Regions from separate parts of the Homo sapiens genome. Here regions 1, 2 and 4 are each reported to be linked to region 3. Evidence: microRNA targets listed by miRTarBase, many of them from high-throughput screens and not tested one by one. Region 3 holds a microRNA gene; each other region holds the end of a gene's coding sequence. Distances are from middle to middle.

Evidence for each region. Region 3 holds the annotated microRNA hsa-miR-6852-5p (CCCUGGGGUUCUGAGGACAUG, at 4,776-4,796, shown strand). A microRNA usually pairs through its seed, bases 2 to 8, with sites in the 3' UTR of a target mRNA and lowers its output. Matches are read on the target gene's strand: a 7mer-m8 pairs with bases 2 to 8, a 7mer-A1 pairs with bases 2 to 7 and ends in A, and an 8mer does both.
Region 1: the mRNA of LETM2 is a reported target of hsa-miR-6852-5p. The part of its 3' UTR that is shown has no 7-base or 8-base seed match.
Region 2: miRTarBase lists AOPEP as a target of hsa-miR-6852-5p. The part of its 3' UTR that is shown has no 7-base or 8-base seed match.
Region 4: miRTarBase lists UCK1 as a target of hsa-miR-6852-5p. Seed matches in the 3' UTR shown: 7mer-m8 at 821-827 and 7mer-m8 at 1,569-1,575.

What each region holds. Positions count from the first base shown.
Region 1 is chr8:38,406,564-38,413,965 of GRCh38, reverse strand. It overlaps LETM2 (leucine zipper and EF-hand containing transmembrane protein 2), which reads right to left. Exons shown (of 11, transcript NM_001286819.2): 9 at 6,928-7,020; 10 at 6,503-6,604; 11 at 4,439-5,754. The coding sequence ends at 5,692. FGFR1 (fibroblast growth factor receptor 1) reads left to right here. Exons shown (of 18, transcript NM_023110.3): 17 at 1-48; 18 at 162-2,823. The coding sequence ends at 338. It overlaps LOC102723716 (a long non-coding RNA gene), which reads left to right and starts at 955. Exons shown (of 4, transcript NR_188043.1): 1 at 955-3,072. RefSeq lists enhancers at 207-880, 881-1,553 and a silencer at 4,166-4,215.
Region 2 is chr9:95,081,641-95,089,082 of GRCh38, forward strand. AOPEP (aminopeptidase O (putative)) reads left to right here. Exons shown (of 17, transcript NM_001193329.3): 16 at 935-1,079; 17 at 5,042-5,519. The coding sequence ends at 1,075. MIR23B (microRNA 23b) reads left to right here and starts at 3,568; the gene lies at 3,568-3,664. It overlaps MIR27B (microRNA 27b), which reads left to right and starts at 3,805; the gene lies at 3,805-3,901. It overlaps MIR3074 (microRNA 3074), which reads right to left and starts at 4,454; the gene lies at 4,374-4,454. It also overlaps MIR24-1.
Region 3 is chr9:35,708,070-35,715,511 of GRCh38, reverse strand. MIR6852 (microRNA 6852) reads left to right here and starts at 4,771; the gene lies at 4,771-4,836. TLN1 (talin 1) reads left to right here. Exons shown (of 57, transcript NM_006289.4): 21 at 325-453; 22 at 636-752; 23 at 825-938; 24 at 1,139-1,273; 25 at 1,431-1,559; 26 at 2,214-2,316; 27 at 2,469-2,677; 28 at 3,388-3,507; 29 at 3,720-3,917; 30 at 4,118-4,257; 31 at 4,430-4,523; 32 at 4,626-4,715; 33 at 4,829-4,951; 34 at 7,028-7,171. RefSeq lists enhancers at 1-805, 3,391-3,440, 3,532-4,731.
Region 4 is chr9:131,518,319-131,525,760 of GRCh38, reverse strand. It overlaps UCK1 (uridine-cytidine kinase 1), which reads left to right. Exons shown (of 7, transcript NM_031432.5): 7 at 540-1,960. The coding sequence ends at 721. POMT1 (protein O-mannosyltransferase 1) reads right to left here. Exons shown (of 20, transcript NM_001077365.2): 14 at 7,224-7,316; 15 at 6,804-6,924; 16 at 6,275-6,372; 17 at 5,568-5,681; 18 at 4,289-4,415; 19 at 3,537-3,714; 20 at 1,962-2,829. The coding sequence ends at 2,655. Among named protein-coding and RNA genes, the nearest start is that of UCK1, 9.2 kb to the left of the region's middle.

The DNA.
Region 1 (7,402 bases), not on the chromosome of region 3:
CAGCTGGTGGAAGACCTGGACCGCATCGTGGCCTTGACCTCCAACCAGGTAAGGCTGCCCGTGCCAGAGCCAGAGCTCAGGCCGTCCCCACTGCGTGCACGCACCTCCCTGAGCAGGGAGGAGGGGCCCGGCCCATCGCTGCTTCCTCTCGCCCATCACAGGAGTACCTGGACCTGTCCATGCCCCTGGACCAGTACTCCCCCAGCTTTCCCGACACCCGGAGCTCTACGTGCTCCTCAGGGGAGGATTCCGTCTTCTCTCATGAGCCGCTGCCCGAGGAGCCCTGCCTGCCCCGACACCCAGCCCAGCTTGCCAATGGCGGACTCAAACGCCGCTGACTGCCACCCACACGCCCTCCCCAGACTCCACCGTCAGCTGTAACCCTCACCCACAGCCCCTGCTGGGCCCACCACCTGTCCGTCCCTGTCCCCTTTCCTGCTGGCAGGAGCCGGCTGCCTACCAGGGGCCTTCCTGTGTGGCCTGCCTTCACCCCACTCAGCTCACCTCTCCCTCCACCTCCTCTCCACCTGCTGGTGAGAGGTGCAAAGAGGCAGATCTTTGCTGCCAGCCACTTCATCCCCTCCCAGATGTTGGACCAACACCCCTCCCTGCCACCAGGCACTGCCTGGAGGGCAGGGAGTGGGAGCCAATGAACAGGCATGCAAGTGAGAGCTTCCTGAGCTTTCTCCTGTCGGTTTGGTCTGTTTTGCCTTCACCCATAAGCCCCTCGCACTCTGGTGGCAGGTGCCTTGTCCTCAGGGCTACAGCAGTAGGGAGGTCAGTGCTTCGTGCCTCGATTGAAGGTGACCTCTGCCCCAGATAGGTGGTGCCAGTGGCTTATTAATTCCGATACTAGTTTGCTTTGCTGACCAAATGCCTGGTACCAGAGGATGGTGAGGCGAAGGCCAGGTTGGGGGCAGTGTTGTGGCCCTGGGGCCCAGCCCCAAACTGGGGGCTCTGTATATAGCTATGAAGAAAACACAAAGTGTATAAATCTGAGTATATATTTACATGTCTTTTTAAAAGGGTCGTTACCAGAGATTTACCCATCGGGTAAGATGCTCCTGGTGGCTGGGAGGCATCAGTTGCTATATATTAAAAACAAAAAAGAAAAAAAAGGAAAATGTTTTTAAAAAGGTCATATATTTTTTGCTACTTTTGCTGTTTTATTTTTTTAAATTATGTTCTAAACCTATTTTCAGTTTAGGTCCCTCAATAAAAATTGCTGCTGCTTCATTTATCTATGGGCTGTATGAAAAGGGTGGGAATGTCCACTGGAAAGAAGGGACACCCACGGGCCCTGGGGCTAGGTCTGTCCCGAGGGCACCGCATGCTCCCGGCGCAGGTTCCTTGTAACCTCTTCTTCCTAGGTCCTGCACCCAGACCTCACGACGCACCTCCTGCCTCTCCGCTGCTTTTGGAAAGTCAGAAAAAGAAGATGTCTGCTTCGAGGGCAGGAACCCCATCCATGCAGTAGAGGCGCTGGGCAGAGAGTCAAGGCCCAGCAGCCATCGACCATGGATGGTTTCCTCCAAGGAAACCGGTGGGGTTGGGCTGGGGAGGGGGCACCTACCTAGGAATAGCCACGGGGTAGAGCTACAGTGATTAAGAGGAAAGCAAGGGCGCGGTTGCTCACGCCTGTAATCCCAGCACTTTGGGACACCGAGGTGGGCAGATCACTTCAGGTCAGGAGTTTGAGACCAGCCTGGCCAACTTAGTGAAACCCCATCTCTACTAAAAATGCAAAAATTATCCAGGCATGGTGGCACACGCCTGTAATCCCAGCTCCACAGGAGGCTGAGGCAGAATCCCTTGAAGCTGGGAGGCGGAGGTTGCAGTGAGCCGAGATTGCGCCATTGCACTCCAGCCTGGGCAACAGAGAAAACAAAAAGGAAAACAAATGATGAAGGTCTGCAGAAACTGAAACCCAGACATGTGTCTGCCCCCTCTATGTGGGCATGGTTTTGCCAGTGCTTCTAAGTGCAGGAGAACATGTCACCTGAGGCTAGTTTTGCATTCAGGTCCCTGGCTTCGTTTCTTGTTGGTATGCCTCCCCAGATCGTCCTTCCTGTATCCATGTGACCAGACTGTATTTGTTGGGACTGTCGCAGATCTTGGCTTCTTACAGTTCTTCCTGTCCAAACTCCATCCTGTCCCTCAGGAACGGGGGGAAAATTCTCCGAATGTTTTTGGTTTTTTGGCTGCTTGGAATTTACTTCTGCCACCTGCTGGTCATCACTGTCCTCACTAAGTGGATTCTGGCTCCCCCGTACCTCATGGCTCAAACTACCACTCCTCAGTCGCTATATTAAAGCTTATATTTTGCTGGATTACTGCTAAATACAAAAGAAAGTTCAATATGTTTTCATTTCTGTAGGGAAAATGGGATTGCTGCTTTAAATTTCTGAGCTAGGGATTTTTTGGCAGCTGCAGTGTTGGCGACTATTGTAAAATTCTCTTTGTTTCTCTCTGTAAATAGCACCTGCTAACATTACAATTTGTATTTATGTTTAAAGAAGGCATCATTTGGTGAACAGAACTAGGAAATGAATTTTTAGCTCTTAAAAGCATTTGCTTTGAGACCGCACAGGAGTGTCTTTCCTTGTAAAACAGTGATGATAATTTCTGCCTTGGCCCTACCTTGAAGCAATGTTGTGTGAAGGGATGAAGAATCTAAAAGTCTTCATAAGTCCTTGGGAGAGGTGCTAGAAAAATATAAGGCACTATCATAATTACAGTGATGTCCTTGCTGTTACTACTCAAATCACCCACAAATTTCCCCAAAGACTGCGCTAGCTGTCAAATAAAAGACAGTGAAATTGACCTGAGAGAAAATGAAATGGCCGTTTTACTTAGAGGACCAAATTGGGTCTCCTGAGGAAAGGAATCCAGTTTATCTAATGAAGATGTTGTGCCATGAAGGCACTGAGTCTGTCTGGTTTCCTGAGGGTTAAAAGATTAGGGCTGGGATCACCACAGCATTAATCAATACTGCCTTTCCGTCTCTTCTAATTGCCATAGGCTGGAGATCATCGGTCCCTTGGCCCTGCTAATGTAATGTATTGATCTCAGGTAAGTAAGATTGAGCATCAAATGAGGCAAGAAATCTGTCTCATTGTTAATGAGGTTGCTGTGCTTATTCGCCACCACTGGGTGGAGCCAGCGAGCTGAAGTTTCAGTTGGCATTAGGTGAAGCACCAGTCCGCTCTCAAGTCACATTGGTCCAACTACTACCTGCTAGTGTGTGCTGGTGGTGAGTGGGAAATCTTTAGCCTAGATTTGGCATTACAGAAAAACTGGGCAGCACTGATGTGGCTCGTTTTGGGATGATTTTAGAATTAGACATGACACAGGTGCAAGGCCCTAAGTGTCAGTGGCCACCACCTCTCTATTGTAGCAGAATTGTGTGTAAGACCCAGGACACATCTAGCATCACTGTAGTTGGGTTTTTAGAGAATGCCTAAAGTGGCCAGGCATGGTGGCGCATGTCTGTAATCCCAGCACTTTGGGAGGCTGAGGCAGGCAGATCACCTGAGGTCGGGAGTTCAAGACCAGCCTGGCCAACATGGTGAAACCCCATCTCTACAAAAATACAAAAATTAGCCAGGCGTGGTGGTGCATGCCTTTAATCCCAGCTACTCCAGAGACTGCGGCAGGAGAATCGCTTGAACCCAGGAGGCAGACGTTGCAGTGACAAGATCGTGCCACTGCACTCCAGCCTGGGTGACAGCAAGACTGTCTCAAAAGAAAAAAAAAAAAAAAAAAAAAAATCTAAAGTCATACCCAATGAGATCATTAGTGGCAGGTAGAGCCAAGGCATCTGCATCTATAGAGAAGGGAGCAGAGAGGAGAAAGCTCTGAAACAGCTGGCACAGCCTTCCATTCCCTCCACTGAGGAGAGCCAGGGAAGAAGGTGGTCAGTAAGAACCCAACTGCTAAGACTTGGTCTGGGCGGGTTCCTTCTAGGTGGACCGTCAACAGTATTCAGGACCATTTCCACCATACTGCCCTACATGCAGGTCTTCGCGTGCAGAAGGGATCTATTTCATAAACATGCTAACTAGAGGTGTAACTTTCATTACCCCGGGAGGCTCAAAGAGTTGGTGGTTAACGATTTACCAGAACACCACTAGCTGGGGCTAGATGTAAGGATCACTGAACCCAACAGCCAAGCACCCTAAATGATGAGAACAACAAAACATCCTTGACTTCTCTGAGCTGCTAGCAGAAGAGTGGGAGGAGAGGTCTATCAAGTGGCCCGGGTCCCTTGACCAGGTCACTGCTCATTCCCACCCTGCTCGGAGGGAAAGCCAGAAGGAACTGTAGGACAGCCCAGCAGTACCTATGACTCATTCAGCTAAAACAGAATTGAGCAAGTTTAGCTAATCCCTTTCCCACATTTAACACCTGAAATGTGGACTAATTAAAATACCCGTCATTTTTGAAATGGGAAAGTGTATTGTGAATCACCTCGATAGGCAGGATCCATGATTGCTGTATGTGCACAGTAGGGATTCATCATTCCCAAAGAACTGGGCTTCATTAGTGGGACATGGTGGGGCTTCTCTGATGGAGCACAAATTTAGAAAGCATTGTAGAATGCATATTCTTGCTGTGAAGTGCTGGTGACATTCCTCATTTAGGTGATCCCAGACAGGACAGTGGAGTTTTACTTGTTTTAACTGACTGCTGTCTAACCACAGCAAGTAAAGAAATCTAATTTTATCACCTACAGGCTGAAATACCTTTGGCCTTCTAACCACTCCCCAGGGGAAGAAAGCCCTTGGTCAGCTGCATGGCAGTCTATCTATTATTTCATATTATTAATACTGAAAACACCAAGCATAAATATCCTAATGTAATACTTGTTGCTGGGTAGCACAGGGATTATATCAGACTTTCACAATCCCTATGACTAATAGTCTTATTTGTGAAAGACAAACTGGCCAGAAACACACACACCCAACACAAACATGGTTAAGGCTTAAACCCTTAATTATGCTTCCTAGCAAAATGGTGGCTAATGAAAGCCATATGTGCTAGAAGAGTGGCTGCCTCGCAGATTGCGGCTGCCTCACAGATTGCTGCAGCCTCTGCAGGCCCAAGATGGAGGTGTCGGAAGCAGCCAAATCTTTCTGATTGCCAGTCTGTTTCTCCAGGAAGCTTCATTATATCCAGAAAGATCTTACTGGGGAGTATATCCATCCCATCTCATAAGGTACTTTGTTTCCAGGGTGCTGATCCTACTGGTGGATCATTCAGAAAGTTAATCAGGTGCTCCTAAAATGGTTTTTGGAACTTCCAAGTTCTTACTCAGAATTCCAAGCCATAGGAGACAGGTATCTAAGGTGCCAAGCTGATTCCATTGTGCAAAAAATTTCCTCTCTGAAGGGACGTACACATGAAACTAAAAAAACAACATGATGGGGGGTGGGCTTTATACAAAGTTGAGTGGGGTGACAATGGTACAGAGGAAATGGGACTTTGCAATTATATTTTTCTAAGTGGTCTGAACTTGGTCTCACTACCCACATCACCTGGAATGGTTACCAGGCCTCAAAGGACTGCCCCACGGGCTAAACAGCTGATCCGCTCTCTGAAGCCAGACAGTCTTATCTGGGAGGTCCTTTACAGATGCCACTGTTGAGGGCCGGAAGCTGAAGAGAGTGAGCTCCATCCTCAAGTAGTCCTTTATGCTCCTTTTGAACTAGCCTTGCTGTTCTGGGCCGTCATTTGTGATTTGGCCTGGAGTGTCTAGGCGTAAAAAACAAGGACTGTAGGCATTAGTCACAGACGTGTAAGTTCTTAAGGAGTGAATGCTATTTTTGTTTTCTTAATCAAAATAGTGACCACAAAGTCAAATCTGAGATTATAATTTACCTTGGTAATAAAAGATAAAGGAGATTTACAAAAAACAAGGTATGTGTGTGCCTTGGGATGCTTTTCTGGGCTTACCCCATCTGTGTCTTCATAGATTCTCTGTCCTGCCAGCCATGTCTTTGGTCCACAGGAGCCACTTCCCACTTCAACTCTCCCACAACCTCCCCACTGTTTACTCTCTTCATGCCCTGTGCTCTTGCCCCAAATCCCTTCACCCAATTGGGAAAACTGGATGATAGATAAGTAGTTTCTTATTTACATGCATTTCTCTGGAAATTAAAGTTGCTTTCCAGCTAGTATTTCCTCACGTCGGAAGCATGTGTAAAATAACACATGGAAACTATTTCCACCTGGCACATAAGAAAAAAAGGGTCTGCCTATATTGTAACTGACTTCTACACTTTGCATGTTTTAGTCTGACCCACAATTTTTTTTTTTGGATAGTTGAAGTAAAAAACGTGGTTACAAGATGACTAAAGTTTGGCCTACAATTTCCTGTTTGGACAACAGGAAGAATTGTGCAGTGTTTTGCAACAGGACTAATTCTAGATTCTCACTGCCCTTAAAGATAACTAGAGGGAAAGGGTCTTCTCTTTCTTTTTCATTTATTAAAGATACTTACAGGTTCTTCAGAAGAAGTGATGGGTCCTTTAGGTAATGAAATAGGTGTTGATGGTGTTATGGGTGATGATGTAACTGGTGGCGGCTGTATAAAGTCTTCATCCTTAAACATCAGAACTGAGAGTTGGGTTACTGATTTAAAAGAAAATGTGTATTAATCTACAGTCCACTACCTTGACTACCAGGAACTTGTCACAACTACCTCATATCCTGGCACAGGATTCAAAAGGCAAAATCTGGAACCTAATTACGTGTAGCCAAATATTAAGCTTCCTCTTAGATCAAACAGTACAATAAATATTCCTTATTAAGGAACATTATTGTATTGAATTTCAATTTCATTAAGGGGATTAAAACAGGAGAAAATGACCCATTGCTATTTTCATTTTTTAATCTAATTAACCAAATGGAAAGTAACTGTCTAACCTTAGTTCCCTTCAGTTGAGGTGCAAGATCCACCATGTTCTCTTTAGATTCAGTGAAAGTAGGTAATTCCACAAGAATATCAGTCTTTGGAGCCTGGGGAGATAAACATTTTATGTATCATAAGCTTTCTGCTCTTCCTAAAACCCAGAAACTTTTACAGTAGTCAATGCCTTTTTTAGCACTATTTGCTTTCCACTAAATCCCTAACTTCCTCCTCTAGCTACACCCTTTATGAGTAACCTATGAAATATGCCCCTGATGTAGCAACTTAGTATTATTTCTCTTTGAGTTTTGAGTACTTTATATACAAAAGTTGCACTCTGATAGATTCTAGCATTTAAAATAATCATTAGCAATCCACTGATGGCACTGGTCCTGCTGTTGGCCTCAAAAGCCATTTCTCAATTATTTGTTTTTCTTTTTTTCTTTTTTTTGGAGATGGAGTCTCACTCTGTCACCAAGGCTGGAGTGCAGT
Region 2 (7,442 bases), 59 Mb from region 3:
TATCTGGAAAAACATACAGGAGTATAAGAAGGACAAAATTTAAGAGCAACTTTATGGTCTGTTCTAAAGACCAGAATTCACTGCAGTATATTTAGAATTGTGATCTTTGACAAATAAGGATCACCATGTCTGGACTTTTTTGGGAAAGCACTTTTGAACCCTTAACTACGAAGTTTTGCTCTTGCGATGTCTTTGAGACCCTTCTTTTAGTTTACTCCAGCGGAATGTAACTCGTGGCATAACTAAGCATGGCACAAGAGAGTAGACAGATCCAGATGGGCCCTTGGGTCTTCTAGAACGTCCTTGGCTATTTTAAAAATACAGGAAAAATGCAGATGTGAGTGTTTGCGGCATTGTTCCCAAGCAGCAGAGCCGGTGCGGGCTACGGTGCAGGGCTGTGGAGGAAAGGGCGCAGGCGGGGTGGGCGTCTCTGCGGGCATCGTGATGTGTCTCTGCCGCGGCTGCTGCCTGCTGTGCTCTTTGCTTCCCTGGCAGGTGAAGGACTTCCCGGATGAGCTCAGACCAGCTACTCCTAGGGACACACTTTGCGGGGCAGGAGTCCCGTGTCTGTAATGCCACACAGGCTCTCCGCGTGGTAATTCTGGGAACCATCTCTGTCTGTTCAGAGCGTTCCTGACACGGCCATCATGGTGGGAATGCCTGCTCATCGTTCTGTCACCAGTGAAATCGTCAGAGTCTGTGTAGAGAATTGGGAGCTGAGGATTCCTTGGGGTTTTGAGTACAAGGAGGAGACAGGGATTGCAGACTGCAGCTTCCAAAAGCACAGTCAGCCCACGGCCTCTGTCTTCTCTGGGGTCTTTGCAATTTCTAGACCAGCAAGTGTGTGTGGAACAAGCACAGACTGAGCTCATGTGTGCGTGTGTGTGGGTACCCACACCTTCGCCTGATGCCCTTTGGCCTCTGTGCCCTGCAGGCCATGGGTGTGTACCTCTACGGGGAGCTGATGGTGAGTGAGGACGCCAGACAGCAGCAGCTCGCCCGTAGGTGCTTCGAGCGGACCAAGGAGCAGATGGATAGGTCCTCAGCCCAGGTGGTGGCCGAAATGTTATTTTAACGAGGTGATTCTCTCCCTTTCCTTTCTGTCATTTAGTTCTAACCAGATACTCCTTTTAGGAGCCAACTAAATCAGTAAGCCGAATAGTTAGCCAAGACTACCCGCAGCATCAATAGTCGGCTCCCTGGCCCAGGGCCTGGAGAGTAACTGGCCAAGTGGGTGCTGGGCTGGTATGGGAGCCCCGGGTCCCTGGAGCACCTTGCCTGGCTGTGGCAGTCACCGGGAAGCAGAGGCTGTCCACCTGGAGGCACAGCGGCACTCCTTGGCACTATTTTGGCCACTTCAGGTTTTATAATCTGTTGAAACAAAAATTGTGGGGGAACATCTTGAGTAGGTTTAGAGATGGAATGGGAAGCCTGGCAGAAGCGCTGGTCCAGTCTTCAGGGTCACGGCTGATACAGGAGTTTAAGCGGCCGTGTGACTCCAAAGCCTAGCTTCTGCAAGCAGATGTTTTCTTCTAGCCATGTGTGAATTGGAGGTTCCTTGGGCTGTCCACGCCTGGTCATCGGCTGGCAGGAGGCTCTCCAGGCACACGCAGCACACACAGCACATGCACCACACGTAGCACACACACTGCATGCAGCACACACACACCAGAGGACGCACCACACAGAGCACGCACAGCACACACCACACAGCGCACGCACCACACAGAGCACACGCGGCACACACAGCACACACAGCGCACGCACCACGCAGAGCACACACGGCACATGCAGCATACACACCAAACAGCGCACGCACCACACAGAGCACACGCGGCACACGCAGCACACACACCACACAGAGCACCTGGAGCACCCACAGCACACACACCACGCAGAGTACACGCGGCACACACACCACACACAGCGCATGCACAACACAGAGCACACACAGCACATGCACCACACGTAGCGCGCACACTGCATGCAGCACACACACCACACACAGCGCGTGCACCACACAGAGCACCTGCGGCACACACAGCACACACCGCACGCACCACACAGAGCACATGTGGCACACACAGTGCACGCACCACACAGCACCCGCGGCGCACACAGCACACGTGGCATATGGCCTCCATGACCCTGTGTCTTGAGGGCAGGTCCTACTTTTTGCTTTGTTGTGTTGGAGCGGAATTTCTCCCCTGGCTTCTATTGGAGTCCTAGATTATTTAAATCACTTCCTCTGTTAATTGTGCCTGGAATTAACCTGTTAGATTTACTTCCTAGCAGTTAGTTGCTCAGTATGGGTTTCTACACTATTAAAGCAACCTAGCGGTAGTACACAAGGTTTTGTTAGGATAGCTGTGAGATTTTTTTTCTCTAACAATCATCATTATTTCTGTGTCTGCTCCGTTTTTCTTCAGTGTTTTATATGATATTAATAGGGGATGTCTAATTTTGTATCTTTAAAAAAACTTTATCAAATCTGAAGCATTTTTCGTGTTATAGCTTCTCTATAATTTTTCATGGATATTGAATATTTGGTGTTGATATTCTTCACTCAGTTTTGAACATTGAGTTTTCTTCTAATGTTTTGTGCTTATGAAAACCATTTCTGTGTAACGTGTTTAAGTAGCTTATTTATCTGAAAGAACTCTAATAATGAAAAGAAATAAAAAGTTTTTCAGAAGCATGATCATATTCTTCCAGAAGAGTCAGGAACCATGTGTGCCAGGAAAGGGAAACGGGACTGAGCGTCTCGTAGCGAAACGCCTGCTGCAGACTTGACGCGGCTCCCCTCCAGGACGGGCTGGCGGCACACAGACTGTGCACTTACCTCACTGCCGGCCTCATAATAGTAATCAGTGTAAATGGTGTTTCTCTTTCGTTTTGTTATTTCGTGGCGTACGTGTTAAAGTGTGTGAAACTACAAGGCCAGCTAGTCCTTTCATCATTCCCTTTGGTGCAGGTTTTGGAGCAGCACCACAGGGCACACCCCTCGCCACTCTTTATGGGGAATTTTTGCCCAGGCAGGCAAAGGAGTCATCTTGGTCACAAGTCTCCCTTTTCCCCCTCCCCAGCATCTTCGATCCTGTCCCCACCCCTCCAGATGCATCCAGGGGTTGCAAGCCTGCCCCCCAACCAGTCCCCGTGAGGAACAGTGGCCGGGATTGTCCCAGGGCCCCTTCCAGCAGGGGGACCTCCTGACTTGAGAGTCCCCAAAGCCTTCCCAGGGCAGCTAGAATCTGCCTGGAGAGAAGGGATCTTGTCCCCAAGGGTTAGAGGCAGTAAACTAATAGCAAGGACAGCTGCCTTTAGCAATTGTGTGTGTCGCATGGCCGGTCCCTGCATTTTTCTTCAGTTCCAAAGCTGCACTGGCATTTTTATGGTCATCTCTGGAGTCCCTTTGATTCAAGAAATTATACCTCTAGGATGCCAACTAAACGAACAACAAACAGAAACTCCACCTGTTTGCTAGCATAACAGGCGTGAAGGCGGCAGTGTCGCCGGCGTCCTTCCGCGGAAGCCCAGTGTGTGCAGACAGCACGGGGTGGCGCTGCTCTCAGGTGCTCTGGCTGCTTGGGTTCCTGGCATGCTGATTTGTGACTTAAGATTAAAATCACATTGCCAGGGATTACCACGCAACCACGACCTTGGCTGCTCCTCCAGAAACCGTGGTCGCGCTCACTGCAGATTGGAGAACAGGTGCATCTCGTAGCTCTTCTTTGGAAACAAAAGAAGCCACCAGCTGAGGAAGATGCTCACCGGTCACCGTCCCTTTATTTATGCCCAGCGATGACCTCTCTAACAAGGTGCAGAGCTTAGCTGATTGGTGAACAGTGATTGGTTTCCGCTTTGTTCACAGTGGCTAAGTTCTGCACCTGAAGAGAAGGTGAGATGGGGACAGTTAAGTTGGAGCCGCTGGGGCAGAGGCCGTTGCTGACGGGCCGGCCGCTGCTGCACAGTCAGCTTGGGTGCGGAGCGCGATCCTGGAGGATGAGAGACCACTTGACCCCAAGGATGCACTGTCTCCTGCTGGGAATGCTAGCCATGTACTGAGTCCTTAAGTCTGTCCACAGAAACATGCACTAATCGGACATCTGTCTGAAAGGTCAAATGTATTGAAAGTTGCAAAAATTCTTCTTACAAAAAACTAAAACCAAATGCATCACCTAAGTCGTGTGAAATCATGTGGTAGCTCATGGCTGTGAGCGGGGCGGGGCGGGGCTTTCGGAGGAGCTCCTGTTGTTCTGGGCGCGGTGAACTCTCTCTTGTATTTGCAGTCCAGGCCTTCGCGTCTCCTGCGCCAGCAGACGGTGCCCACGGAGCTCCCAGCTGAGGCGCTGCTTCTCCGGGCTGTCGATTGGACCCGCCCTCCGGTGCCTACTGAGCTGATATCAGTTCTCATTTTACACACTGGCTCAGTTCAGCAGGAACAGGAGTCGAGCCCTTGAGCAAAAAGCCTTCGTGTCTGTAAGTGCCCGAGGCTCAGGAGAGCTGGGGCTCCCACTCGCGGCAGACAGGCCCGCGTCCACCCTGCGTCCACCCCGGCCCGGCGGCAGCACGGTGCCAGTCATCTGCATGTGCTCCTGCGGCGTGGGGGTTTGTAGACTTGGAAAACCCTGTTGGCAGAAAGTTAAGAGCTCCCAGGCCTGAAGGCAGGACACAGTGCCAGCAGGGGGCCGTTTGCCCCCATGTGTAAGGGAGGCAGGGCCCAGCTCTCCCACGGCGAGGTGAGCTGAGACTTTCTGAGAACAGTTAGAGTGGGTGCGTGTCTGAAATGGGTACTCCTAGCAGCTATTGTGTACGCAAAGCCTGAGTACAGCCTGCTGGTGTCATGGCCACGTGTGAGCAGGCCAGCGTCACACGGCTCGCTGTGACCCGTCCCGGAGACTGAAATGGGCCTGGGTCTTCTCCTTGTCCTGTGATTAAAGTCCTCTCTTGAAAGTGGAGAGCAAAGGCACACAGAGGTGCGCGCTCACAAGAATTCCTCCCGGTGACTGGGTAATCAATGTTACTGCTGTTTCCTTTGCAGGAAAGACCACAGCAAGATTCTTTCATTCGTCTCCTCCTAGCCTGGGGGACCAGGCTCGAACTGACCCTGGACATCAAAGGAGGGATTATGTGGCTGCTAAAGCCATCGGCCCACAGCCCTGTTCACATCTTGGTGCTTCTCTTTCCCAGAGGCTGGTCCCAGCCAGGCACACACAAAAGGCAGATTCTCGTAAACGCAGCCTCCCTCCCTGGAGGCTGCCTCCTGCCCTGGATCTGGAGTGGAGCTGCTCTGAGATTTTGAGTTCTTCTGCAGAGATGATTAAATATATCCAAGAGACATTGGAAAACCTGCTGAACATTTTACATTGGTCTGCTCAGCACATGGCTGGATGCGGATATTTCTATAATTCCAGAAAGTCACACAGCTCCTCTGTATGAGACCAGTGGGCGCCATTTAAAAGAACAGGATGAGAATCTAAGATATATTATTAATAAATGTAATGGATTTTTTTTTTGTATACGTGTTTGCTTCTAAATTTCATACTGTTTAAAAATAATAAAGGCCAGGTGCGGTGGCTCATGCCTATAATCCCAGCACTTTGGGAGGCCGAGGTGGGTGGATCACGAGGTCAGGAGATCGAGACCATCCTGGCTAACATGGTGAAACCCTGTCTCTACTAAAATACAAAAAATTAGGCGGGCGTGGTGGTGGGCACCTGTAATCCCAGCTACTCGGGAGACTGAGGCAGGAGAATCGCTTGAACCCAGGAGGTGGCAGTTGCAGTGAGCCGAGATTGCGCCACTGCACTCCAGCCTGGGCGACAGAGCAAGACTCCATCTCAAAAAAAAAAAAAAAAAAAAAAAAAAAGCACGTACAAGAAAAAGGTATTCTCCACATTCTGGTGTTCCCCCCCCACCTCACTAGTTTCTTTGTTGTTTTCAAGGTAGTGTTAGTTCTCTTAGAAGCCTGAAAACAAAAGTAATTTGGCTGCGCGTGGGGCACCCTCTTCCGATAAAATGGAGAGCCTGGGCATATTCAGGCATCGTGGGAGTCTGGTGGTATGATTTTTCTTTCTCCACAAGGTTTAGGGTATAGACAGAAGCTGGGCACTGAGCTTCCTTGGCACTGTCCATGGGGCAGAATGTTTGAAAATGCCTGGAGAAGGCTGTAGGAACGGGTGCAGCCATGGGCCCTGTGCCAAGTTGGGCTGAGCATGAGTGCACCTGAACACACCCACAGTCTCCTCTGCCTGGCTCCAGGGGGCAGCACAAATTCTGGCCTGTTTGGGGTGAAGTGGGGCTCTACCATGGATCTCATTAGAAGCTCTGGACTGGGAGGCCTTGGTCTCCAGAACTCTCTTTTCTTGTCCCAGTGACTGATTCCAGAACGTTCTTAGGATTTGCTCTCTGCTGTCACATGCCTTTGCGTGGGACTGTATAGCTGGCTGTGCCATCGTGGAGGATGGCTCAGAACTTGACTGTTATGTTTGAATAAATACACGACCGCGGCTTCCTGTGGAGATTTAGAATGAACGATGCTTTCTCTCTGTGTGCTGCTGCCTTTTTTTTTTCCTTCCTTTCTTTTTTTTGACAGTTTCACTCTTGTTGCGCAGGCTGGAATGCAATGGCACGATCTCTGTACACTGCAACCTCCGCCTCCCGGGTTCAAGCGATTCTCCTGCCCCAGCCTCCCGAGTAGCTGGGATTACAGGCTCCCGCCACCATGCCCAGCTAATTTTGTATTTTTAGTGGAGATGGGGTTTCACCACGTTGGTCAGGCTGGTCTCGAACTCCCGACCTCACGTGATCCACCTGCCTCGGCCTCCCAAAGTGCCGGGATTATAGGCGTGAACCACTGTACCCGGCCTCTCTCTCTCTCTCTCTCTGCGCTTTCTAAGTGTGTTTGGCTTTCACTGAGGCAGAGCCAGGAAGGACCGTGGGAGTACCGGCCGCACTGCCCTGCGAGGCTCCCACTCCCACTGTGTGCAGATGCTTGGCACCTGGAGCTCTCAAGAGCTGCGGGTGGCTCACCGGCCCAGTGGTTTGGGGTGACCTTGCTTTTCCAAAAAGTGAAAGCCATGCTTTATCTTCTTTAGAAACCACTAAAGCAAAGCTGAACTGCTGAATAGGTGGGGTTCTGCACAAAGACCACTAATCCCCTGGCTCCTGTGAGTCACCGGGTCTTGTGACTTGCTTTGACCACCGGGGATCTGGCCAGTGGGTGGCATAAATTTGGTGGACCTCATCAGAACCGGACATTGCTGTCACGGATTTGACTGAGGTCCTGCCAGGAGTCGGCCTTTGCTGCCTCCAGACCTGGGGGCACCCTGCCCGTGCTGGGGCTGCCCCTGGAGGTGAGGGAGGGAGGAAGCCGGAGAGCAGCTCCGCCACTCTCTCCAGGCAGGAGGCTCCCCGAGGCTCTGCAACTGCCCTCGCCGGCA
Region 3 (7,442 bases):
GATGCCTGCTCTAAACTGAGTCCTCCTTTGTCCAGGAAGCCCTACTCACCTCACTCGTGTGGTATTCCCCAAGGAGGGGAAGACAAAACAATTCCACCTTAAGAAAGGATTTCAGCATCCAGTGGGAATCCTAGCCCCCTGAGGTTTCCCATTGACCTTCATGAGTCAGCTCCTCTCAAAGGTGATTGCCTTTTGGTGGGGCTAGTTAGAGATGACTTCAGGAAAATACATGAATTTTAAACTGAGTCTAGAGGAGTGAGAGAGGAGCTTCTTTAGGATCCACAGGAGAGCTGGGTGATGACTGTCTTTCCACCTCTCCCTCAGGGAGCAGCTGCCCACCCTGACAGTGAGGAGCAGCAGCAGCGGCTGCGGGAGGCAGCTGAGGGGCTGCGCATGGCCACCAATGCAGCTGCGCAGAATGCCATCAAGAAAAAGCTGGTGCAGCGCCTGGAGGTGAGGCTGGGAGTTTCACCAGGAGCAAGAGAGAGTGTGGGTGCTGTGGGAGGAATGAACTGAAAGGGAGGTGCGGAGAGTAAGTTAATACGTCCTTGAGGCATAACCTGGGCAAGGTAGGCCAGGGACTGGGCTGGGCATGGGAATCCATGGGCTTGGTCTGACTACTCTTGTCTTCACAGCATGCAGCCAAGCAGGCTGCAGCCTCAGCCACACAGACCATCGCTGCAGCTCAGCACGCAGCCTCTACCCCCAAGGCCTCTGCCGGCCCCCAGCCCCTGCTGGTGCAGAGCTGCAAGGTAAGACTCTAGGAAGGATGTGGGAGTGGAAGAGGGAGACTTGTGGGTCTCTTATGACATTTTCACCTACAGGCAGTGGCAGAGCAGATTCCACTGCTGGTGCAGGGCGTCCGAGGAAGCCAAGCCCAGCCTGACAGCCCCAGCGCTCAGCTTGCCCTCATTGCTGCCAGCCAGAGCTTCCTGCAGGCAAGGCACCCCCTCTGCACTTCTCTGACCTGACCTTCCCACCTTTCTAAGCTTCCATCTCCCACAGTTTGAATCTCTGCCAAGAGCCTCTTTCCCAATACCAAGCCCCAGTGTTCCCTACATCCTGACCATCATCAGTCCTTGTACCCAAGCCCAGAGGGAGGATGGCACACTTCATCCACCTGCCTATTCCCCAACAGCCAGGTGGGAAGATGGTGGCAGCTGCAAAGGCCTCAGTGCCAACGATTCAGGACCAGGCTTCAGCCATGCAGCTGAGTCAGTGTGCCAAGAACCTGGGCACCGCGCTGGCTGAACTCCGGACGGCTGCCCAGAAGGTATGGAAGCTGGTTCTGGCTTTGGAAGATGAGGCTGGAGTCCTGTGATGAGAGGAAATCTGTGCAGAATAACCCAATACGCAGATAATTGTGTAATCAGAGGCATTGGTGAGACACAGCAGGACCTTCTACACCCAAAACCCCTTTCTTATCATAGGCTCAGGAAGCATGTGGACCTTTGGAGATGGATTCTGCACTGAGTGTGGTACAGAATCTAGAGAAAGATCTACAGGAAGTGAAGGCAGCAGCTCGAGATGGCAAGCTTAAACCCTTACCTGGGGAGACAGTAAGTATGTTTAAGACCTCATTCTTACTCAAATCCTAAAGTCTTCCTTCACCTCCGTGCCCCAGAGCTGCTCAAAACCTTTCCTTCCTTCCTTTTTCTTTTTTCTCTTTCTCTCTTTTATTTTTCTTTTCTTTCTTCTTCCTTCCTTTTTTCTTTCTCTTTCTCTCTCCTTCCTTCTTTCTTCCTTCCTTTCTTTTCTTCCTTTCCTCTCCTCTTTCTTTTCTTTTCTCTTTTCTTTTCTTTTCCGTTCTTTTATTTCTTTTTCTTTCTTGATGGAGTCTCGCTCTGTCACCTAAACTGTAGTGCAGTTGTGCAATCTCAGCTCACTGCAACCTCTGCCTCCTGGGTTCAAGCCATTCTCCTGCCTCAGCCTCCTGAGTAGCTGGGATTACAGGCATGCACCACCACGCCTGGCTAATTTTTGTATTTTTAGTAGAGATGGGGTTTCGCCATGTTGCCCAGGCTGGTCTTGAACTCCTGACCTCAGGTGATCCACCTGCCTCAGCCTCCCAACGTGCTAGGATTATAGGTGGGAGCCATCGCACCCAGCCCAAAACATTTATTTAAATTGCCACCTGTCCCCAAGTACCTTCTCAGGTTCCTTCTCCTCACCTTCTCCTTTCTCAAGCCCAATTCTTCCCCCTTCATCCTTAGATGGAGAAGTGTACCCAGGACCTGGGCAACAGCACCAAAGCCGTGAGCTCAGCCATCGCCCAGCTACTGGGAGAGGTTGCCCAGGGCAATGAGAATTATGCAGGTATGTGGGCAGAGAGCCAGGCATGGGGCATATTGTGAGGGAGGTAGGAAAATGGGAGCTGGATGAGGGATGGGACTGACAGACGAAACCACTGGAATCAGGGCCTGGCAATGAAAGCACCTTCCCTTCCCTCTTTCTCCTCATCTCCCAAGGTATTGCAGCTCGGGATGTGGCAGGTGGGCTGCGGTCACTGGCCCAGGCCGCTAGGGGAGTCGCTGCACTGACGTCAGATCCTGCAGTGCAGGCCATTGTACTTGATACGGCCAGTGATGTGCTGGACAAGGCCAGCAGCCTCATTGAGGAGGCGAAAAAGGCAGCTGGCCATCCAGGGGACCCTGAGAGCCAGCAGCGGCTTGCCCAGGTCAGATACTGGGAAAGGGCCACTCCCTCTCCCCCAGGTTCCTTCATAAGGCCCACCCTGATTGAGGCCAAAGCTTCTGAGCCTCGTCCACACTCACAGAGTGATGTCTTCTTGGGTCTGCTCTTGACAGCCCCTCTGTGGATTCCACCCTTATGTTCTCTTAGTCTTTTTTTTTTTTTTTTTTTTGAGACAGAGTTTTGCTCTTACTGCCCAGGCTGGAGTGCAATGGCGCAATTTCGGCTCAGTGCAGTCTCCGCCTCCTGGGTTCAAGTGATTCTCCTGCCTCAGACTCCCTAGTAGCTGGGACTACAGGCATGCGCCACCACACCCAGCTAATTTTTGAATTTTGTTTTAGTAGAGACAGGGCTTCACCATGTTGGCCAGGATGGTCTCGATCTCTTGACCTCGTGATCTGCCCCCCTCGGCCTCCCATAGTGCTGGGATTACAGGCGTGAGCCACTGTGCCCGGCCCTCTTGGTCTTGTAGAAGTGTCTCAGTTGGATTCAGTCATGGGCTGAGCTAAACACCAAGTTTGGGGAAGTTTAATTACTGTCACTTGAAACCCTAACCTCAGCCTGTTCACCTACAACGCCCCCTTTCTTTTTTCACTTTCAGAGGCAGTAGAGCTAGTCATCTCCCATGTCGCGTGAATGGAGGCGATCTCTCAAATTCTTTTCACTTGGGCAACCCTGTCTCCTTTCTCACCCCAGGTGGCTAAAGCAGTGACCCAGGCTCTGAACCGCTGTGTCAGCTGCCTACCTGGCCAGCGCGATGTGGATAATGCCCTGAGGGCAGTTGGAGATGCCAGCAAGCGACTCCTGAGTGACTCGGTAGGAGGACGGTAGGGGGTGGGGGAACGTAGGAGTCAAAGAATGCCAGGCCTCTCCTTCCTCCCTCTCGGTTGTCCTTTGACCCTGACTTCCCAGATCTGTCCCCTTTCATTACTCCCAGGCTATGTGCCCACCTTTTCAGCCCTCCTTTACCAGACTTCTCCCTGCATCATTCCCCACTCTTCTGTCTGACTTCCCCTCTCACCTTGCAGCTTCCTCCTAGCACTGGGACATTTCAAGAAGCTCAGAGCCGGTTGAATGAAGCTGCTGCTGGGCTGAATCAGGCAGCCACAGAACTGGTGCAGGCCTCTCGGGGAACCCCTCAGGACCTGGCTCGAGCCTCAGGCCGATTTGGACAGGACTTCAGCACCTTCCTGGAAGCTGGTGTGGAGATGGCAGGCCAGGCTCCGGTATGAAGAGGCAGAGGGTCTGGTTGAATGGTTCCCACTAAGGGTTAGATAGGAGGCAGTTGAGTGACCAGTCCTGACTTGCTCCTGGCTCCCTTCCCTCCCCAGTCTCTAGCACTACTTGAGTGTCTGGGAAAGAAGATCCCTTTTAGAGACAGATAAGAAAGGACAGGACAATGCATTGACCTTGTCACCTTCAACAGAGCCAGGAGGACCGAGCCCAAGTTGTGTCCAACTTGAAGGGCATCTCCATGTCTTCAAGCAAACTTCTTCTGGCTGCCAAGGCCCTGTCCACGGACCCTGCTGCCCCTAACCTCAAGAGTCAGCTGGCTGCAGCTGCCAGGTAAGTAGTTGCTGAGAAGCCCAGCCCTGGACTGTGTGAGAGAGACTGGGGAGCAGGCAGTTCATGAGAGCTTCTTGGCTTAGGAATGGTTATAGGCAAAAGATAAATACTTACATAGGACCCAGGAATGATGACCTATTCACCTTTTCACTCAACTTTCTGTCACTCCCAGGGCAGTAACTGACAGCATCAATCAGCTCATCACTATGTGCACCCAGCAGGCACCCGGCCAGAAGGAGTGTGATAACGCCCTGCGGGAATTGGAGGTAGACACATGGCAGGCTGATGGCATTGAGGTTGAGGGAAGTGTTCTGGTTTTGGGCCTGAGGGAGGTGTCTTGGATCTCACTTTGCCCTCCCCCTACACAGACGGTCCGGGAACTCCTGGAGAACCCAGTCCAGCCCATCAATGACATGTCCTACTTTGGTTGCCTGGACAGTGTAATGGAGAACTCAAAGGTCAGCACAGCCAGGAACTCGGAGGAGAGAGGGCAGTAGGATGGAGCTAACCAGATGCTGCCCTGGGGTTCTGAGGACATGCTCTGACTCCCCTGATGTCCTCTGTTCCTCAGGTGCTGGGCGAGGCCATGACTGGCATCTCCCAAAATGCCAAGAACGGAAACCTGCCAGAGTTTGGAGATGCCATTTCCACAGCCTCAAAGGCACTTTGTGGCTTCACCGAGGCAGCTGCACAGGTTATTTTCCTGAGATGGGTTCTTTGAATGGCCCCTACTTTCTTTACCCCATTTTCTCTCAGCCTGACATACCTGTAGATAAATCAAGAAGTTTATGTTTGCAAAGCCAACTCTATGGAATCTGGGTTGTCCTCCTCCTGAAGTGGAGACACTTGTCAGCAATTACTGAACACCAGCAGTTCTGATTTCTGTAATTCCTGAACCCTGGTACTTTGGTTAGGATTACACTGCCCAACCGTGAGGCCTTTTCCAGCTGGCTTTCTCAAAATATACTAATTAGCTTATACAAACTATTTTTTCATGTTATTACTACTTTCTTTTTTTTTTTTTTTTTTTTTGAGACAGCGTTTCGCTCTGTCGCCCAGGCTGAAGTGCAATGGCGTGATCTAGGCTCACTGCAAGCTCCGCCTCCCGGGTTCACGCTAGTCTCCTGCCTCAGCCTTCCAAGTAGCTGGGACTACAGGCGCTCACCACCACACCCGGCTAATTTTTTGTATTTTTTTTTTTTTTTTTAGTAAAGACAGGGTTTCACCATGTTAGCCAGGATGGTCTCGATATCCTGACTCGTGATCCACCTGCCTCGGCCTCCCAAAGTGCTGGAATTACAGGCGTGAGCCACCGCGCCTGGCCTGTAATCACTACTTTCTTTTTTTTTTTTTTTTTTTTTTTTTTTTGAGACCGAGTTTCGCTCTGTCGCCCAGGCTGGAGTGCAGTGGCGCGATCTAGACTCACTGCAAGCTCCGCCTCCCGGGTTCACGCCATTCTCCTGCCTCAGCCTCCCGTGTAGCTGGGACTACAGGCGCGCGCCACCATGCCCGGCTAATTTTTGTATTTTTAGTAGAGACGGGGTTTCACCGTGTTAGCCAGGATGGTCTCGATCTCCTGACCTCGTGATCCGCCCGTCTCGACCTCCCAAAGTGCTGGGATTACAGGCGTGAGCCACCGCGCCCGGCCAATCACTACTTTCTTAAAATAGTACTAGTGACAAAATTTCCAGTTACTTGAGTTATCACTTAACTTTGCCTTTTCCCACATTATCAAGTATAAAACTACCTATTAGCTGTAAAGTATTTTGCTTTAGTATATGAATCCTTAAAACAAACTGGCATCATAAGAGTTCACTTCAGACTATTTTCCCTGAAAGCCTACCATCCTAGCCCTCCATCTCCACCACCTCCCTGTGCCCTGTCAGAATAGGCGCCTTGCTCTAGATGGCTTGTTTGATTTTGTTTTTTTGTTTTTTTGGTTTTTTGTTTGTTTGTTTTTTGAGACGGAGTCTCGCTCTGTCGCCAGGCTGGAGTGCAGAGGCATAATCTCGGCTCACTGCAACCTCCGCCTCCCGGGTTCAAGTGATTCTCCTACCTCAGCCTCCCGAGTAGCTGGGACTACAGGCGCCTGCCACCACACCCGTCTGATTTTTGTATTTTTAGTAGAGACAGGGTTTCACTAAACCTCTTTGTTGTTTGTTTGGTTTTTTTCCCCCCACCTTCTGAAAATGCATAGAGGAAAAAGCAAAGCTACTGTGTATTGATTGAAGTATGAATCAAACATTAGGATGTTCTTTCCATCATAAAAATGGCTTTTTAACCCCTCCCTTCCTTTCCAAATATCTGACGCATGGAGGTGCTATAAATGTGAATTAGCCTAATAACCTTCATCAGTTTTGAACTGTCTTTAAAAGAGGCTTTGCTTGTGTGCACAAAGGTGTGTATTTATATATGGCTCTCAAACGTTTTACTGCTACTTACAGTAAGCCATACTTTTCACTCTAAGACCCAACATACACAAACATATCTAAATAGAGATTGGATAAAAACCCTTGCTATGTAGTTTTCCTTTTTATTAACTTTTTTAATCTTCTGAAATGCTTGAATATACTTAATGAAAACAGGAGAGTATTTTTTTTCTTCTTTATAGTGTAACCATTGTTTGCTAATGTATCTCCACTCATGGAGAACTCTGGAAAATAAGCCCTATTCTCTAAACTTACCTCTGCTCTCTTTTGTCCCTACTATCACTATTCATTTCCCACCTGCAATCTTTATTCCTCACCCCCACCCCCTTTTCTCTTCCCAGGCTGCATATCTGGTTGGTGTCTCTGACCCCAATAGCCAAGCTGGACAGCAAGGGCTAGTGGAGCCCACACAGTTTGCCCGTGCAAACCAGGCAATTCAGATGGCCTGCCAGAGTTTGGGAGAGCCTGGCTGTACCCAGGCCCAGGTAACTCAAGGGAACAGGGACCACAGGCGAGTCTGGGAAAGGGCAGACCGACCCCGTGGAGTAGAGGGAGGTGAGGCATGTGGGAAAGAGGGCAGGGACCCATCTCTGACCTTGCACACACAGCTTCTTTTTGGGTAACTGTCTTTTTCTGCCATGGGTCTCATCATTTATCAGTTACTGCTAAATTCACAACTTCTCTGTAGATGTTCGAGCTTACTCTCCCACATGCCCTCTTATGGTTTCTCCATTAGTATGTCTTTCCTCTCCCATG
Region 4 (7,442 bases), 96 Mb from region 3:
TGCCTCACACTGGTAATCCCAGCACTTTGGGAGGCTGAGGCAGGGGGATCACTGGAGCCCAGGAGTTCAACAGCCTGGGGAACATAGCAAAACCCCATCTCTACAAAAAATAAAATTATTTGGGCATGGTGGCATGTGCCTCTGGTCCCAGCTACTCAGGAGGCTGAGGTGGGAGGATTGCTTGAGCCTGGGAGGTTGAGGCTGCAGTGAGCTGTGATTGGGCCACTGCACTCCAGCCTAGGCAGTAAAGTAAGAACCTGTTTCTTAAAACATATATATATGTATATTCAAATCTGTTAGCAGAAAGTACTTTAAGCAGACTCTAACATAAATTCCTGGAAGACCAAGCTAAGAAGTCTTATTTTGCTGTGTCCTGATGCATGTTTCTGTCTGCTGAGATTTGACTCGATGCCCCTCGCCGCAGGCTGTGCCTCAGGGCAGAGGTTGGGCGCTCACTCCTGGCCGAGTGCTGCGGGGAGGGGCGGTCTCCACGGAGGATGGATGCGGCTAACCCGCTGCTTGTCTGTCTCTTGGCGCAGTTGCCATCAACCTGATCGTGCAGCACATCCAGGACATTCTGAATGGTGACATCTGCAAATGGCACCGAGGAGGGTCCAATGGGCGGAGCTACAAGCGGACCTTTTCTGAGCCAGGGGACCACCCTGGGATGCTGACCTCTGGCAAACGGTCACATTTGGAGTCCAGCAGCAGACCCCACTGAGGGGCTGCCGAGCCTCAGGGCAGGTCTCCCGCCCGGCATGTGTGTTCAGGGACTGAGCCTGGGGACGCCCACCCACACCCACTGCTTCCTCTCGGCGCACCCCAGGGGAGTGTTAGCAGCGAGGCCTTCCTCACTCAGGAGTGGAAACTCAGATGTGTCACTCAGACTCAACTTGCTGGGACACTGACAGGCGTTCCTGAGGTTTTCAGCCACTTAGGCTCGTTGCGGTTTAAAGATCCCTCTAGGTCACTGAGAAATGCCACAGAATGTGCAGGAAGCCTGGGAGGCTTCTGTGAGGAATGTGAGGCACATTATTGGGGAAATTGAGGAGACAGCCTAGACACTGGCTGGCCTGATGTTTTGTTGACAGTGAACCCACAGTGGGAGAGAGTTTTTTCCAGTCTGATCTGGTTCTTACACACTCACACACATAACTCAAAAGTTTTGTGAACAAGTACTTTCCTTTTTTACATGTTACATGTCCTCATGTTTTCTGTTTTCTGTTTCATAACACAAGGCTGGTTGTGGCCTACAAACCTAATTTCATGACCCAGTGGTTTGCAGTCCAGCGTGGCCTACACGGATATGGGGAGCCACTGAGGGATGTTTTCCCCCCTTGCTTGTGCCTTAAAGGCAGAGAAGCGAGGCGGATGCCCTGGAAGCACCCAGCATCACACCCAGGCTTGTGCGGGGCCAGGCTGGGAGCCCATGCAGTAGGGCAGAAGGCAGCGGAGGCCAGGTCTGTCCCGGCTGGAGAACAGCGTCCACGCAGTCCTGCCTGGGGTCAGGCCCTCACTGACCCTCAGGGGAGCCCCCAAGGTGCTGTCTGTCTAGACAGGCTGTCCCACCCCAGGGTGGCTAGTGGCCATATGCAGGGAATGGTGCTTCTGGCTGTGGCACGCACTGGATCACCCAGGTCCCAGCAGACATGGCCGCCCAAAGTCAGCAAGCCTCCTTTGTGCTATGTGGAGCTCACAGCCTCACATGTGAACACCCGTGTCTGGGTTGCCTGGGGTGATCCTCCCTCCTGCGTGGTGGCTGTCTCTGGAAAGCATCCCTTGCCGCTGCCATGGGCAGCCCCAGCCCCCGTCCGTCCAGGCTCACCCACAGTAGTGATGCAGACGTGACGTGGGGGAAGGGGGCTGAGCCCTGTGGCTGGGTTCTGACAACTGTAACGGTTTTGTCGAGCTTAGGCCCCTTTGGAGGGAGAATCAATAAATAACAAACACCAACTACAAACGCCAGTTGGTTCCTTTTTTAATTACATTTAAAAAAGACAAAGGCATGGAGCTGTATGGATGACACACCTTGACCACTGACGAGGAAGATTTCACTCAGCCACGTCTCAGTGGAGTCTCAGAGGGGAGGGTTTCCACACAGCACGGTGCCAAGGGCCAGTCTTGACGCTGTCATAGACAATGACATGCAAGCCCCAGCCCTGGCTCGTGGTTCAGGTGGCCCTCCAACACTGAGCTGTCCCAGGACGCCTGCCGGGCTCGCTGAGGGCAGGGCCGGGACTTGCTCAGGTTGCTGGGTGTTCATGAAGGAGGATCGGGTCTGCCAGATCAAACTCCACCCTGCAGCAGTTAGCAAGGACCAGGCCCTGGTCTGCTGAGGCTCCACTGCTGGCCCTGGGTTCTCGGCTTTTTGTTGTCAATGACTCCTACGCTGGCCTCTGAAATACTCCCTGTGTCTTAGTTCAGGGGTAAAGACACGGAATATCTTTATTGTCGAGAAAAAATTAACTTTGCACAAAAGGAGGTGCTCATCAGAGAGCTTTTCAATGAGACCCCCATGTGTTCCACTAGAGGCCCTGCTCAGCCCAGCCCGTGTCCTCCCAGCGTGGGGCCCACCCTGCTCATTACGTACATTGACCAAGACCCTTCAACCTCATCCCGACCCCAGCACGGGTGTTCTTTGCCACACTCTTGTTCTAGTGTTTTCGGATCAAGATGTCCCAGCTGTCTTTCCAGCGAAGGGCCTTGAGTTCATGTGGCGAGAGTGACTTGTCCCCGTAGGTGAGTGGGCGCAGCGTGTTGGACACGTGGCACGCGGAGGAGTACCAGGCCACCACCAGGGCGCTGAAGATGCTCCTCTGGAGCTGGGACCTGCAGAGGTCAGAGCAGCGTGGGGGAGGGTGGCTGACCACTGCGGCTTCCCTGCCCGGCACCCTCTTGGCATCTGCTGTCCACACGGTCACCCCCCGAGGCCTGGGGTTCTGCCTTCAGGTTTCTGTGTCTTGTCTCCTGCCACCCATGACCATCTCCCACCTGGATGCACTGAGAGGGGCCCCCTGATGACTCCTCAGGCCTCCACAGTGGCTGGGCCACCTCCACACAGATGCCAGAGGACTGGTCCCAAACCCACGGTCCTCCCTTGTGTGGCTTCCTGAAACCGGGAGGCCCTCGCCCTCTGCTCCAACCTCCAAACACACTCTGGTTTAGAAGCTTTCTTGGGTTCTCTCCACCACACCACACAACCCGACCATAACCAGCTGCCGTTTCTGACACCCCAGGCTCCTGGGCCTTGCTCCCTGCTCCCGAATCCTCCAGGCCACCCACATCTCTTCATCCCCTCCCCGTCTCCCCACCCACTCCGCTTTCATCTCTGTCAGCCGCGACTTCTCCCTCTGGGTTCCTGCAGTGCCTCATCTGGGCATCTCTTCTGAACCTCACCCATTCCCCGGAGGGACCCGGAGGATGTCAGTGTAACGTGAAATGGGTGAGGTTCGCTGCACCCCATGTGTTTGCTGCGCATGGGCTTCCCAGCAGAGGGCTGCTGCCCGGTCCAGCCACTGTCTCCGCAGCCCCCGTACCTGCACAGGTGGTCGCTGATGTGCTGCAGGACCACAGGGAGCAGAAGGATTTGGAAGGTGAGTGCGGGCAGGTAGTGGTAGAGGAAGAGTGTCTTCTCCATCAGGAAGAACGGGAGGTAGTTCACTGCCCAGCCACCGGCACACAGCGCCCCAGCCAGCACCCAGCGCAGCCAGGCATCTATAGGAAAGGGCTCGAGCTACACCGACTCTGCTGCTCCCACAGGCCGGGTCTTCTCTCTCTTTTGCTTTTTTAGAGAGAGGGTTCTTACTATGTTGCCCAGGCTGGTTTTGAACTCCTGGCCTCAGGTGACTCCCTCACTTTGGCCTCCCAAAGTGCTGGGATTACAGGTGTAAGCCACCGCGCCCGGCCTGGCTGCCTGTGTTACCCAGCCATTTCCAGCGCATACGGGCAACATGGGACCAAGAGGGCAATTCCTGCCCAATACGCTGCACTCGACTGGAGACACCTCTAACGCAACATGGGAACTTAACATTTTGTCTCTTGGGAGACAAACATAATTTAAGATTCCACAATACAGAAACAAAGAGGCCGCGTTAAGGGGTAGGTTCCTATGAAGTCGGTTTGTCACTTGAGGCGGTGAATGCTCAGCGCACACCTGTAATCCTAGCACTATGGGAGGCCGAGGCAGGAGGATCGCTTAAGCCCAGGAGTTCAAGAACACCCTGGACAACACAGCAAGACCCCATGTCTATATTAAAAAGAAAGAAAGCCATGTGGGAGAGGTACTAACCCTGAGGGAGGTCATGGACATTTCTTCGCCGTCGGAGCAGGTACCACAAGGACAGCAGGGCGTAGATGGCCAGAGCGAGGCTGCCCGAAACCCAGATCACTATGTTTCCAAGTAGGTGGATCTGAGCCTAAGGGAACATGGGAGATGCTGTTAGCCACCTGCCCTCTGCTCAGGGAGGGAAGAGAAGAGAACACAGGAAAGGAATTCAGATGCACGCACTACTTTAGCAGAGTGAAAAAACGCCAGGCACAGCCTAGCATCCACTAGGCCTTACTACTACTGTGGACAGGTCTGCTCCTACTCAGACCTTTCATTAAAAGCACTGATGCCAGCCGGGTGTGGTGGCACATGCCTGTAATCCCAGCACTTTGGGAAGCTGAGGTGGGCAGATCACCTGAAGTCAGGAGTTTGAGACCAGCCTGCCCAACGTGGCGAAACCCCGTCTCTATTAAAAAGTACAAAAATTAGCTGGGCATTGCGGTGGGCACCTGTAATACCAGCTACTTGGAGGCTGAGGCAGGAGAACTGCTTGAACCTGGGAGGTGGAGGTTGCAGTGAGCCAAGATCACGCCACTGTACTCCAGCCTGGATGACAGAGCAAGACTCCGTCTCTCTCTTTCTCTCTCACATACACACACACACACAGCACTGATGCTCTCAATTTTGTAATTGGAAACTGAAAATTGGGAGCAGATGACTCCACTTTGTAACAGCAGCGCTGTCCACGGAGGAGAATGCAAAGTGCGCTCAGAGCTCGGGGTGGGGCGGCCTCTGGGCCTGAGCCTCTGCCTTCAGTGCACATGCTGAGCCGACCTACCCGCCTCTGAGGGAGGAGGAAAAAGGTGGGCATTTCCAGCGTCTGCCCATTCAGTGAATATTTATGGGGCGCTGACTGTGCGCCCGGCCTACCAATGCTTTCACTCTGCCGGGTGGAGAGACGGCACGCACATCAGCAAAGCACCGGTAAGCTCCACCACCAGGTGCCACACGGAAAATTGAATGGGAATATCTTAAAACCACTTTCGCCAGGAAAAGGGGAACAATGTGTCTCCACAAAAGCAATCAAGCCGGGTTTCCTTCAACAGGCACACATGCCACACCCCTACTCCTGGCTCCAGGTTGCCAAAGCGTTTAGAGAAAACCAAGTCACAGGCCTTTGTCAGGAAAAGCTTGGGAGAAACCCAGCACTTTCTAGGGTGCAGCGGCTGCTCTTAATGCAAGGAATTCTCAAGAAACAGGATGAATCTATGACTGTCAGCTGTCAGCATCGCTCGCTTACGCTGGTCCTGGGGTGCAGCCAGTAGGCAATATTGGTGTCCAGGGTGACCCACTCCAGTGGGCTGGAGCTGTACTTGTGTTCCGAGTCATCACTTCTCAGCGCCAGCATCCTCCACTGGAACAAAGCAGAGGCCTCTGAGATTGAGGATGGGGGATGCCTCCCGCTGTGCGTGGATTTGGTCAAAGGAGTACACTGCTGCCCCTTGCACGTGGACTGGCCCAGCTCAAGTTCATTCGGATCATGCATCGGAGGCAGCATGATGAGAACCTGGATTCCAGCCCTGAATGTGGCCTTGGGAGGGTCGCCCCACCCTATGTGCTCCAGTTACCTCCTCTGTAGACGAAGTGATTGGGCTGAATGCTCTCTAAGGTCACGTTCAGATTTGTGACCGTGAGTTTCTGATTGTGACTTCTCTTGGGCTCTGTTGAGTGTGGCCCATTTCGCTGCCTGGGGGCCTTAAGACACCCTGGCGATGTTGCAGAACCTCCTGGGTCCCTATTATTCCTGACCACAGGGCCACAAGGTGTGGGCCAGGGGTGTCACACACAGTCCCTTACACTGGAGAGAGGAGACACTCATTCTGTTGTGAGCCTGTAGCTCCAGCGTCAAAGCCTGACTCTGGTTTGAGTCCTGTGCAGCCCCCAGGCCTCCCTGCTGAGGAGTCAATGCTCAGCGAGCTAGGCCAGCTTCCCCTGGCCGCTCCTCACCTGCAGCTCCGAGAATCTCGCCATGAAGCTGAGGTTCCTGCTGACGTCCACCTGCGCAGGTGAGTGCAGCTCCCGTTCCCGCTCCCTCTGCTCCTGGCCTGGCAGAACAGACAAGGGCATAACAGATAGAAGTAGCACAAGGTCAAGAGCTCAGAGCAGAAGCTGTCAGTGCAGCAAAAAGCTGGCTTCCTGCCTTTCTAACAAAGACCCCTTATCGAACCGCATCATTCCACTTAGCTTTCCCCACCACACCCAAGACTGCCCGGTCAAATGAGGTGATTTCGACCCTGAGAAAGCTCCACTTGCACGGGGATAAACTGGTTGCCTTCCAGCGACACCTCGGAAGAAGCGTCTTGAGTTATTACTGCAGCAGCTGAGTGCAGGGTGCAGGGAGGGAGATGACCTGCCACCGAGCATGGAGAATGTGCTCAGTTCCCTTCCCACCAAAATGAGAACTCTGGGGTGTTATCAAATATTGAGCAGCTGAAAGTACATTCCAGGAGCGGCGGAAGCCACGCCGCGGACTCACTCGCGCCGTATCGGTGCTCCTCCACGTTCCACACCGTGCTCCCGTGGTAGCCCCGGGACAGCTTCTCCCCGACGATCTCCAGTTGCCGATACCCCCAGTCAGGGAGGTGAGCCCCGCTCAGCTGGTGACACCGCAGGAGAGTAAAGGGCGTGATGGGAAGGCCGTGGCTCCCGTGTCCACTTGGGTTGGAAGGGGAACCCCTGCCCGGGTCACGCTGTCAGCAGGTGCCCCTTGTGGGAGATTCACATTGGGATTCCATCCTGAGAAGTTACAAAAGCCGCCCTCCCTCAGTGTAAGAGGAAGCCATGATGACTCAAATGAAGCGTTCCGCCTGCAGAGAGGCGGTGAAGCCTGAGGGGCTTGGGAAACAGACTGGAGCCCACAGCTCAGGACAGGCCAAGCCACGGACAGTGTCCTTACCTTTAAGACAGCGGAAGTGTTCACGTGCACAAAGCGGACCTCTGAGAGGATGGTCTTCCAGACGTCTGTGTCAGATCCTCTGTTCACAATTTCCTGCAAAAAGACATCTCAAGGATTATTTCATTCCTTTTCAAATTTCCTTCAATGTAAAAATAAAGACCTGTCACCAAACAATGATACTGACTTGAGCCTGAGACAAAGGGACAAGTCCCCAAGTGA